2 separate regions of the Homo sapiens genome follow, and region 2 is linked to region 1. A link means that fine-mapping ties the variant in region 1 to the expression of a gene that starts in the linked region. Tissue or cell type: whole blood. Region 1 holds a variant in brackets; the other region holds the start of a gene. All regions are shown on one strand. Distances are between the middles of the regions. Region 1 overlaps TFPI (tissue factor pathway inhibitor). Region 2 holds the start of CALCRL (calcitonin receptor like receptor).

The links. PIP is the estimated chance that this variant, and not a neighbour inherited with it, causes the effect.
Region 2: CALCRL starts here. The variant in region 1 is fine-mapped to the expression of CALCRL in whole blood (TOPMed, PIP above 0.99).

The regions. Positions count from the first base shown.
Region 1 is chr2:187,468,303-187,473,704 of GRCh38, reverse strand. The region is part of intron 6 of TFPI (tissue factor pathway inhibitor); the gene reads left to right. The region is part of intron 2 of CALCRL-AS1 (CALCRL and TFPI antisense RNA 1); the gene reads right to left. Among named protein-coding and RNA genes, the nearest start is that of CALCRL, 23 kb to the right of the region's middle. The variant A/G (reference allele first, on the strand shown) is at 3,186.
Region 2 is chr2:187,445,339-187,450,740 of GRCh38, reverse strand. It overlaps CALCRL (calcitonin receptor like receptor), which reads left to right and starts at 2,489. Exons shown (of 15, transcript NM_005795.6): 1 at 2,489-2,702. The region is part of intron 2 of CALCRL-AS1 (CALCRL and TFPI antisense RNA 1); the gene reads right to left.

The DNA.
Region 1 (5,402 bases):
ATAGAGATACATACTCTTTCTTTTTTACAGAGAGAGGGACAAGTTTACCACACATTCCTACTCAGAAACAGATTCCAATCTCTAATCTCTAGGCTTTTATCTATTACCTCAGGACACTGGACTCACTCTAACATATTATTTCTATCATATATCTTGAGCATTATGATTGCAAAGAATTTGAATAAAAAAGAAAATAAAAGAAGAAAAACTGGCCATATCCACATTATGCAGAAACAATCACTGTTGGCATTCTAGCATATCTCATTTACTATTTTCTTGTATTTTTTTTCAACTTACCACAAAGTAAATAAAGTTCAAGACTGGAAGTAGCTGCTGGAGGAGCCCGAACAATATAGAATAAGCTCAGCATAAAAGTATCTTTTTGTAAAATTTAACCTAGCAAATCTCTAAGCTCCCTACCTAATAAAGCTATCTCTATAGTAATCATCCTCCCAACTGATTGCATGTCCTCTTAAATATTTGCCCAATGGATACATATATAAATTCTATTCTCATTTATATGTGCTTGTATATATATGTATGTATTGTGTGTTGGTACAAAATATAAATTATTATATTTTCTTGATTCTAACATGCAGGTTTTTCTACCTTTTAACATGATTCTAATGATGATGAAACTTATAACTGATAGTGTATAACAGTGTAATTATGTTTTTCTTTCTTTTTTTTTCGAGATGGAGTCTTGTTCTGTTACCCAGGCTGAAGTGCAGTGGCTCAATCTCAGCTCACTTGCAACCTCCACCTCCGGAGTTCAAGTGATTCTCCTGCCTCAGCCTCCCTAGTAGCTGGGACCACATGCGTGTGCCACCACGCCCAGCTAATTTTTGTATTCTTAGTAGAGACAGGGTTTCACCTAGTTGGTCAGGCTGGTCTCAAACTCTGGACCTCAGGTGATCCACTCACCTCGGCCTCCCAAAGTGCTGGGATTACAGGTGTGAGCCACCACGCCTGGCCGTGTCTTTCTTTGTTTATGAATAGTACATAAAATAATAGTGCATCTTCAAATTAATGACATTTGGATTTCATATAAATGATATTTCATATAACATTTGGCAAGCTATAAGCAGTTTCTTGTCCCACATAGTACTCTTCTACTTTTGTTGGCATGGGGAAGAAAAAAGTGTTGAATAGGAGATAAATTCATAGCAGTAAGGTCCATGGTTTGCTAAATGGTTTAGGCACTTTAAATGTCGTTGTAGGCATATAAATTTGTGAAAAGTTTCAGTGGAAAATTCAGCAACATCTACCAAGTTATAAATTGAATATAGATTTTGCATAATTCTAATTTTAGAAGTATGTCCTCTGGAAGCACCTGAACCAGTGTACATGGGTGTTCATGAGCCACTGTCTGGTACTGAAAAAAATAAATTATAATAATCCATATGTCCATTTGACTAAATATACTGTAGTCAACTCATAAAATGAAATACTGTACCTACATTAAAAAGAGTGAGGCCTATATAAAAATGTGGAGACACAGCCACAAAATATTATCAAGTATAGTAATATAGAATATTATATTAATACATTTGAATATGCAAACAATTTGGAGATATGTAAACCATTGGTAGTGGTTAAAGGGCAAGAATCAAATTATGGATAAATTTTGTTTTACATTTGTTATACTTTTATATTATTTCAAAGTTTTACAAAGATAATTTGCAGTAAATAATTTATATTTCTCTTTACTACAAAATTATAGAGAAAAAAACTTTAAAAAAGATTTGTTATTCAATTCCCTAAAAAGTCTTAGAAGAATAAAATAAATGTACTTAACAAGTTGTAAGATATTTCTTAAAACCTAGTTTGTTTAGTAAAACAAAAGCCTAAGTAGGCAAGCCAAATGGGAATCATAAAAAAGATACCACAGTAAAGATTCAAAGTGAATATATGATTCAAAGTTTACTGTACAAATCTCAAAGCAAATTTACATTAACAACTTTACCTGTAAAACTGAGTTTAGAGCACCATCTTACAGTTCAGCAGTCACACTAGATCATGATAGTTCCTGATTTAAAAAAAAAAGTGTACCCTGAATTCTGAAACCTATCAAAAACCCTGTAGACAGAAGGTACACAACTGGTTATTAATGGCAGAATCAAGACAGAATGCATTTGATTATTAAATTCCCTTTGGAAAAACAACAAAAGTCAGGTTAGTGTCTTTTTATTCTATCTTAACTTTCTGTCAATAATTATAATCTCAACTAAAAAAATTACATTTCGCAAAACCTTTATATTTTCTTTCATTGTAGATAGCAAATTCTGGATTTTGAATAGATGAGTGCTGATCTATATGTAGAATAAATTTGCTATTTGGAAACAATGAAGTTTTTCTCTTCAAGAAGTGAAAAAAATTCAAATGGAACTAAAATGTTCTTAAGAAACCATTTGCTTCATTACTTTAATTTTACTGTCATTTATGGTATAGTAACCCAATGATAGTCTTACTGCTCAGAGTTAAAATGATCTTAAGATAAATGAATTAGTTTACGTATTAGGTAAAATTTATGTTCTGAAGAATAACCGCCTTATAATGATTCCTTAACTGACAATAATTTATTGCATCTTTAAAAACCTCTAAAAGTTAATTACACATAATACAATATCCTTAGTGATTAACTTCACATTTTAATGCACTATCGAAATATTGCCATTTCTAGTGTTAGGAACCTCACTGTTGATCTGGGTCAAAACTCTGTTGTGTTGAATGATCTGCGTAAGCAGTGGTTGAAATCAGGGCAAAGTAAGATAGATAAACAACTGACATTGCATCAGTCATGGACAAGTAGGAGCAAGTATCTGATTATAGGTGCATCTGCATACCAAATCCCAGGCTGTCAGAAGCAGCATGCCAGACACCCTCTGATTCAGAAGTCATAAAGAGTGTCAGTAGAGGCAATCTGATGCCTTGGATAATTTAGTGAAGTTTTCTCTGCTGGCATCTATGCTGGTCAACTGTCTGTTTGCTCTCAAACCAATCCCCTGCTCATGTGGTTTTATGGGGAACTTTCTCCTCTGGCTTCTGAAAGGATTTGGTAAATGGCAGGCCTTGTTGGATGACTGGATAGTCAAAGGAAGACTGAAGCTAGCATATGTCTCTCCACCACATCTGTGGTGTATCTTCCATGGTTTCAGCTTCAATGGAAAGGCCCAAATGGTTCT[A/G]GGATTCACCTGCTGTTCTTGGTCTATGATAACAGAGGCTCCTCTTCTCATACGTCCAATCTAGGGACTGTAGCCCCATATGTACTAGCCTAGCTTTTTCCCATTTTGAAATAACCTTGATTTTATGATTGGGCCATGTTTACTATAGGTTGTATGTGGGAAAAGAGAAGAAGTTTGCTCCCTGTCATCAGAAAATTTTCTCTGTTCTGGAATAAGGGGGCTTGATGTCTGGCATTGCTATTTAGACGTAACAACTAACATTTGCAAAGAAGGATACAACTTACAACCACATTCACACATATTATCTGCAACTTACTGTGGGCAGATATATCTTACATACAAAATGCTAAAGTGAAATTGATGTATAAGTCATATATCATTTTATCATACACATCTATTTCGAAGTTACTGTGGGTGTTTAAACAGGAAAAAAAGCGATAGTAATTTCCTGTTTTCTCTGTTTCTCAAATTAGGTTAATTGCATCTAGTGCATCTCTTTTGTTTCTGAACATAGGTGATAACTGGAAGCTCATGAGATCAAAGTGGTGGCAATTAATAATCATTTTATATTCTACACTGTGCAAGGATGATGATAATACACATCCCACACATTGGAAAAGTGTGTACAATAGTACAAATCAATTACAATATAACTCTCCTAGACTGCTAGAAAATTCCTCTAATATAAATGATTCTTAGTGACAGGAAATGTCAACATTTTCTAGAATGTCTAGCACACATTCTCACCATTCAACTTTGATTTATGATGGCATATCATCATGTCAAAGGATACAAAATACAGGCATGTAGGATAAATAAGCCTAGAGATCTAATGTACAACATGAAGATGACAGTTAGTAAAACAGTATTGTGTTAGGGATTTCTGTTATATAAGTAGATTTTAGCTACCCTTGTCACACACACAAAAATGTAACTGTGAGAAGATGGGTATGTTAATCTGCTTCACTACAGCAACTATTTTACTATCTATATGTATCCCATAACATCATTTTGTAAACCTCACATATACACAATAAAAATTATTTTAAAAATCACGCACTATAATCCCCACATAGGAGAAGGTAAAACATAAAGGGCTACATATGATTTAAAACGATGTTTTCATTTTACAAATCCTAGAAGGTCTTCTTAAAATCACTGCATATATACCTAGTCAAAGACCTAAGTAAAACTAAATACTCTTTATTTGATTATAGTTCTGATATCTTATTGATATAGTTTGGCACAAAAATATCACCTGTCTCAAATTTCTTCTCATAAATTATTCTCACAGTATTCATTCCCTCTCATATTTCCCAGAATATTTTTTATTACCTGAGTTACTATATCAAGACACTCTAGTCCTTATTTAAATATCTAGAAGGCAGGAGGTGGTAAAAAATGTTTATATCAATTTGAGATTTTTTTTCATTTTTTTCTCACTTTGTTTTATTTCTTTTCTTTTACAGTCTGTTCATCTGGGGTTTATTTGCCAAAAGACTGCTTCTTGCTTAAAGCACAATCTATTCACCTTCATTAACTACTGGATTCCTCAAAGTTCTATTTTCTGCTAATATTGGACATTTAGCAAATCTTCCTCCTCTGTATTTGCTTGTATCACATCTCACCATTTGACAAAGCCATTAAAGTTTTCTTGTATTGATTCCTTGCCATACAACTTACCTGTAGTACTGGTTTATTAACATCAAGCAGTTTAGCTGTGCTACCGAAGAGTACTCGGTGCCCCTCACTGACAGTAATTCCCAGAGAGCTAAAAACTAACATTCAGCTGAAACTAATTTCTCTTTTGATTTGGCAAATGAGTGCTCCTTTTATTACCCTAATTGTATTTTTCTCTTCTGTTTTTGAAAACCATTGATTGATCCCATTGACAAACCAGCTTATCTGTCTGATCCAAATCAATTTGCTTCCTTTGCAAAAACATTTAACTCATCTAGAACTAAGCTTCAAATATGAGAAAAAAAATGCTACCAAGACAAACAACTCATCTGGACTCATTCCTTGAAACTTAAAACTTGCCATACCTGAATTCCTCCACTTTAAACTGTGCTTGTATTACATCAGTCAGCATGTGCTTAGTCAAGAGAAGTAACTCTTCCTCAGCTTCAGTGTTTTTGTTACATCACAAATAAAAACTTTGCTCATTAGAATTTTTTAAAGCCAAATATTTGTGAACAAATGATATGTAAATTAATA
Region 2 (5,402 bases), 23 kb after region 1:
TTGCTCCTACATAACTTAGAATACCCTGAATGCCTTCCTGGAAGTCCTTGTACCATTTATTTTTTCTGAAGTTTATAAAATGGCAGCTCTTGAGGATTACTAGGATGCAATTTTCCTGTTATGTCTAAATAAGAATTAAAGATGATATTAATAAAATTTATCAAGGAGTCTTCATGGACTACAGCCATGGGCCCATGTGTACGTCAACTTAAATATAAATGATACAACTTCTACTAGACACCCCATAAAGTATAGCACTTGATAGAGAGTAGAAGAGAAAGAGCATTGGATTAAGGGTCTTATGACATGAGCTCAAAACATGAATTTTTTTCCTTCAGTAGACCTTACTAGTATTGGGCAAATGAAATCAATGAATCTCACCAGGCGCAGGGGCTCATGTCTGTAATCCCAGCACTTTGGGAGACCAAGGTGGGCGGGTCACCTTAGGTCAGGAGTTTCAGACCAGTCTGGCCAACATAGTGAAACCCTGTCTCTACAAAAAAATACAAAATGTTAGCTGGGTGTGGTGGCGGGCGCCTGTAATCCCAGCTACTTGGGAGGTTGAGGCAGGAGAATTGCTTGAACCCGGGAGGTGGAGGTTGCAGTGAGCTGAGATTGCGTCATTGCACTCCAGCCTGTGCAACAAGAGCAAAAACTCCATCAAGAAAGAAAGAAGGAAGGAAGGAAGGAAGGAAAGAAAGAAAAATGAATCTTTGGAAAGACGAAAATATCAATGCTTTTATAAACATATTGGGAAAAGTTTTAGTTTTCCATGATTTAATTAAATTCAAAAACTATATATTAATCTCTTTATAGGATTCATATATTACACTTAGCATGGAAGATGAGAAGACATGACCCATTATTACTTTCATATTAAATCTAGTATTTGTTTTTCTCTGAATTTCAAGATGGGAACATGAAGCCTAAAAAGCTTTGTCAAGATCACACCAGACAGTATCAGAACCGGTTCACCAGTGTAACTCAGTTTCTTACAAGTCTTTTCTATTAACCATAATTATAGAGATGAAAGTATATCTATTTTTTATATGTCTGTATTTTGTAATCAATATTGATCTCACTGGTCTTAAAATCAAAGATTGTATAAACATTTTCTTCCACTAATTCAGACAATAAAAATGTCAACATGAGCACCCTGCTTTAAAAACATGATATTCCTGAATTTATTTTGCCTTTACCTCCTTTGTCTGCCTACAAGGTGTATGGCACCTCATTTTATCCTGGAATTGCACTAACAATTTACTAAGAGTTGAATGATCCTCACCGTATCTTATCTATTTCAAAATGTTATGAAATTTGTCGATTCAAAGCCTTAGACATAAAATCTATCTCTTCTAGTTTATAGATGAGAAAATTTATGCCCTGATAAATTAAGTGACTTTTAGTGCTGTTTAGGTTATAGGGATTATAATTATTGCTTCATATCGAACATTTACCAAATTATAAAAATGATAAAAGCATTTTAAATTTACATTTTCCCCTGATCATATCCAATGATGTATTAAACATATTCAGGAAAAACTATGCTTTGAGATGAAATTTTGTCTAAGAAATAAAGTATCCTTTGTATTTATATTATTTTATAATATTATGTTTACAACATCTATATTTTCTTTAAGATTATATTGACTTACAAATATTGTGGTATAAATTATTTTATATTATAAATAACATAATTATACCAAATATTTTTAAATGTGTGCAATAATTTTAAAATTATGAATTATTCAAAAGGCTATTTTGTCAAATATATATACTTATATATTATAAAAGAAACACTCTATACACACACATACACAACCTGAATTTATAACACATACACTCATGTTCTTATGAAGAAGGTAAAGGAAAAAATAAAAGATTTAAAAACTGCAGGATAAAGTTTCTTGATCTAATTAACTGATTAGGAACTGCACTTAGGAACTGATGGAGGAACAGCACCCAATTAGCAGAGCTCCAAATTAAGAAGAGCCAAATCACAAAACCAGTTATGATGAATACAGTTAATTTTTTTTTCTGTGTTGTGCTATGAACACAGATTTGTTAGATTTTTTTTCCTGGATACTTTGTAAGCTATAATTCAACACACACACACACACACACACACACACACACACACACACGCCTAACTCCTTTGATTCTTTGAGCAGAATACTATATTCAGATTTCCTTCAAATCACAAGTAGCTTGTTTGGCAAGTTCTAACAGAACTCAGTCAAGGTGAAAGCCAGCCAGCTTTTTACTGGTAACAATGTATTCACACAGCCTATGATCTCTCTCTGTTCAGGCTGCTTCTTGCTCTTGTCTCACAATAAGAAAGGAGTGCTGCTTTCCTGGGGTATGCTATTTGAGAAAGAAAGTAACCTAACACTAACTGCAGGCGGGGTCAGAGTGATGTAACAGGAAGCTCTGATGTTTCCCTTCTGCTGCTGATCACTTACAATCTGACAACACTTACAATCTACTCAGAACAACCTCTCTCTCTCCAGCAGAGAGTGTCACCTCCTGCTTTAGGACCATCAAGCTCTGCTAACTGAATCTCATCCTAATTGCAGGATCACATTGCAAAGCTTTCACTCTTTCCCACCTTGCTTGTGGGTAAATCTCTTCTGCGGAATCTCAGAAAGTAAAGTTCCATCCTGAGAATATTTCACAAAGAATTTCCTTAAGAGCTGGACTGGGTAAGTGCACATTCAAAATAAATATATTTATTCTAAGTAGTATTCTCATATAGTTTGGCAATGTTTCTATTATAGAATTTAGTAGATAGCACTGAAATAATGTTGAAACATAGTCTCACTTATTTCACATGCTAGAGAAAATACAGCCTACTACCCCAACATGAATACAAAATCTAATACTACTAGATAATATTGTTTACCATGGTATTCTAGAAAATAAATTTAGCAAGTATTAAAAATCTAAATGGATTAAAAGACATATTTCTGAACAAATACCTTAATCACAGAACAATGTCTTTTAAAATTAGCTCTAATATTAGCTAAGCTTGAATCTTGACAACTGGAAAACATTTCTCCCCCCGGAAGGGTCTTTAAACTTTCCATGTTATCAGCTGTAAGAAAGAGGTGAAAGAATAACTACTTAATGGGTCTCGGAGTCTCACTTACTCTGTGGTTGATCATAATGCAGAGTTTTGAAAAGTAATCACTTTGTATTTATTACATTTGCTTTTATTTGCCTTTCACCTTTATTTACACATATATCTGTAACTACTGAACTAATTTTTGTGTTCATTGTTGCCAGATGTGTTTAAATCTCTCTTCTGCTAACCCTGAACTGTTTGCTCTTTATTTGGATCATGGTGTCGGCTACAAAGAAAAAAAAAAACCTAGAGTTTAGGAAATGTAGATTTTTAAAACAATTCTTAATTTTGAAATCTTTAAGAGAATACTTCAACTTGACTGGTTCCCCTCTGCAAGCTTTTGGAGGGGGGTGTGATACCACGATATCTGTGGATAAAGAAACGTGACAGCTTTCCCAAAGAAGTATATTAGACGATTAAACAAAGAAATTAAAGTATTTATTAAAAAAGAATTTCCAGGATGGAACTTACTGAAATGTTGGATAAAACATCTGTTAATGCTCATTCCGATAGTACAGACTGTCCTGAACAATTTAAGAAACTAATGTCTGCTTAATAAATTGTTTGTGTAGATATATCACAAATTTGTTGCTGGAGAAAGTTTGATGTCAAATTTTAAATGATGTTGATAGATATGATTTTTAAGTTATATATTTTCTTACCTAAATGCAATTATACTTTCCAAGATGTCCTGCATTGGAAGCATCCTGTACTTAATCACTTATATCTGGCACATTAATAATAGACTACAAACATCCTGAGTAACTCCTCAGTAATTTACAACTCAATTTTTCCACAAATTCCTCAATATAATGAAAATTTAAATTAATTCTTAGATTTGTGATTCTTTAAGAGTATCATGGCTGATTTCTCTCTCTTTTCAATCTTCAGTTGTACTGAGTTCCCTGACACATGTGTAGAAATGGGAAAAGTGTTTTTAGAATGTGACTTTAGCCATTATATAAATGGGGGAGAAAGTGGAAACAACACATTTACTAACCCAATGACGTGGGTTAGTAACAAAAATTAAAACAACATTATTTTTAATTCAGATTATTTTCTTAGGAGGTATTATATTATGATCATATTTTATAATGAGAAACTCTCCAAACTTCCTTAATTTTTGTTTAATTGCTAGTCCCAAACCCATAATTTTCTTGTATAATTTGATTAAATTTTTATGAGTTTACTAACAGTATGGTTTATAATCTTTGTTTTCCAAAAATACTTTTGAAAAACACTAGGCGATGAACATTGAAGGTCATTAGCCAAAGGAAATATTTGAGGACATAACTGGAAGTTTGAAATAAAAATTCATATTATTGTATTCAAAATGTGCTTTCTTTAATGATAAGAAAATATCAGAATATCAATGCATGCTTTTAGCCATAAAGAAATGAATTTACTTTGCTAGAAGATGTTTCCTTGTAGCATCATAAAATCAATGCATTGAGCCTACAGTCAATGCTAAATATGTAAAATGAAACATAGAATTGAAATAGTATGTGAATAATGTGAGCTGAAATATGTTTTACCTGAAATATTCTATTTCTTAAAGAGATAATGTTTTTGATTATTGTTACAAGATTTTTTTTCTATCTTACATACCAAAGCATTATACTAAAAGTTAAAATATGTAGATTTTTATAATATATGAAACTGTTCATTCACTTTGAAAAATTGGAATAACAAAAACATTGTTTAAAATAATACTGGGTCTGTAATTTTAAAAATTATTTTAAATGAATGGGCAAGATTCATATGGTTTTCTCACTGGTGACTCCGAACATGTAATGAATTTTAAATGAAGACAATACTTAGCATATTTGTAAGAATATTTATGTTCACCTGCACATATTATACTATTTTTTCATGCATAACAGAAATAAAATTTCATAAAAAATTGAAAATAATATAAAGGTAAAATGATTACCTTGTTTGCTTTACAGATTAATGTGGACAAAGTATTTGATAAACACATAAACACTAACTGAATTTCAGTTAATAGCATCATTATATATTTCTAACTAGATCATATTTGGAAACATTGTAAAAATATTTTGCTACCAATTTTATCTACATGGCAAAAGTTTGATAGTAACTTAATTTTAAAAGATTGTTCTAGATCTTTATAGAAAAAATATAATAATCTTTAAAGGATCAAAAACTTATTCACTAAACAAAATTTATTTCATACTCTATATATGACTTTTAATACAGCTTTATCAAATAATTCTGGTTTTGGAGATATAATGATTACAGTATCGACTTTTCACAA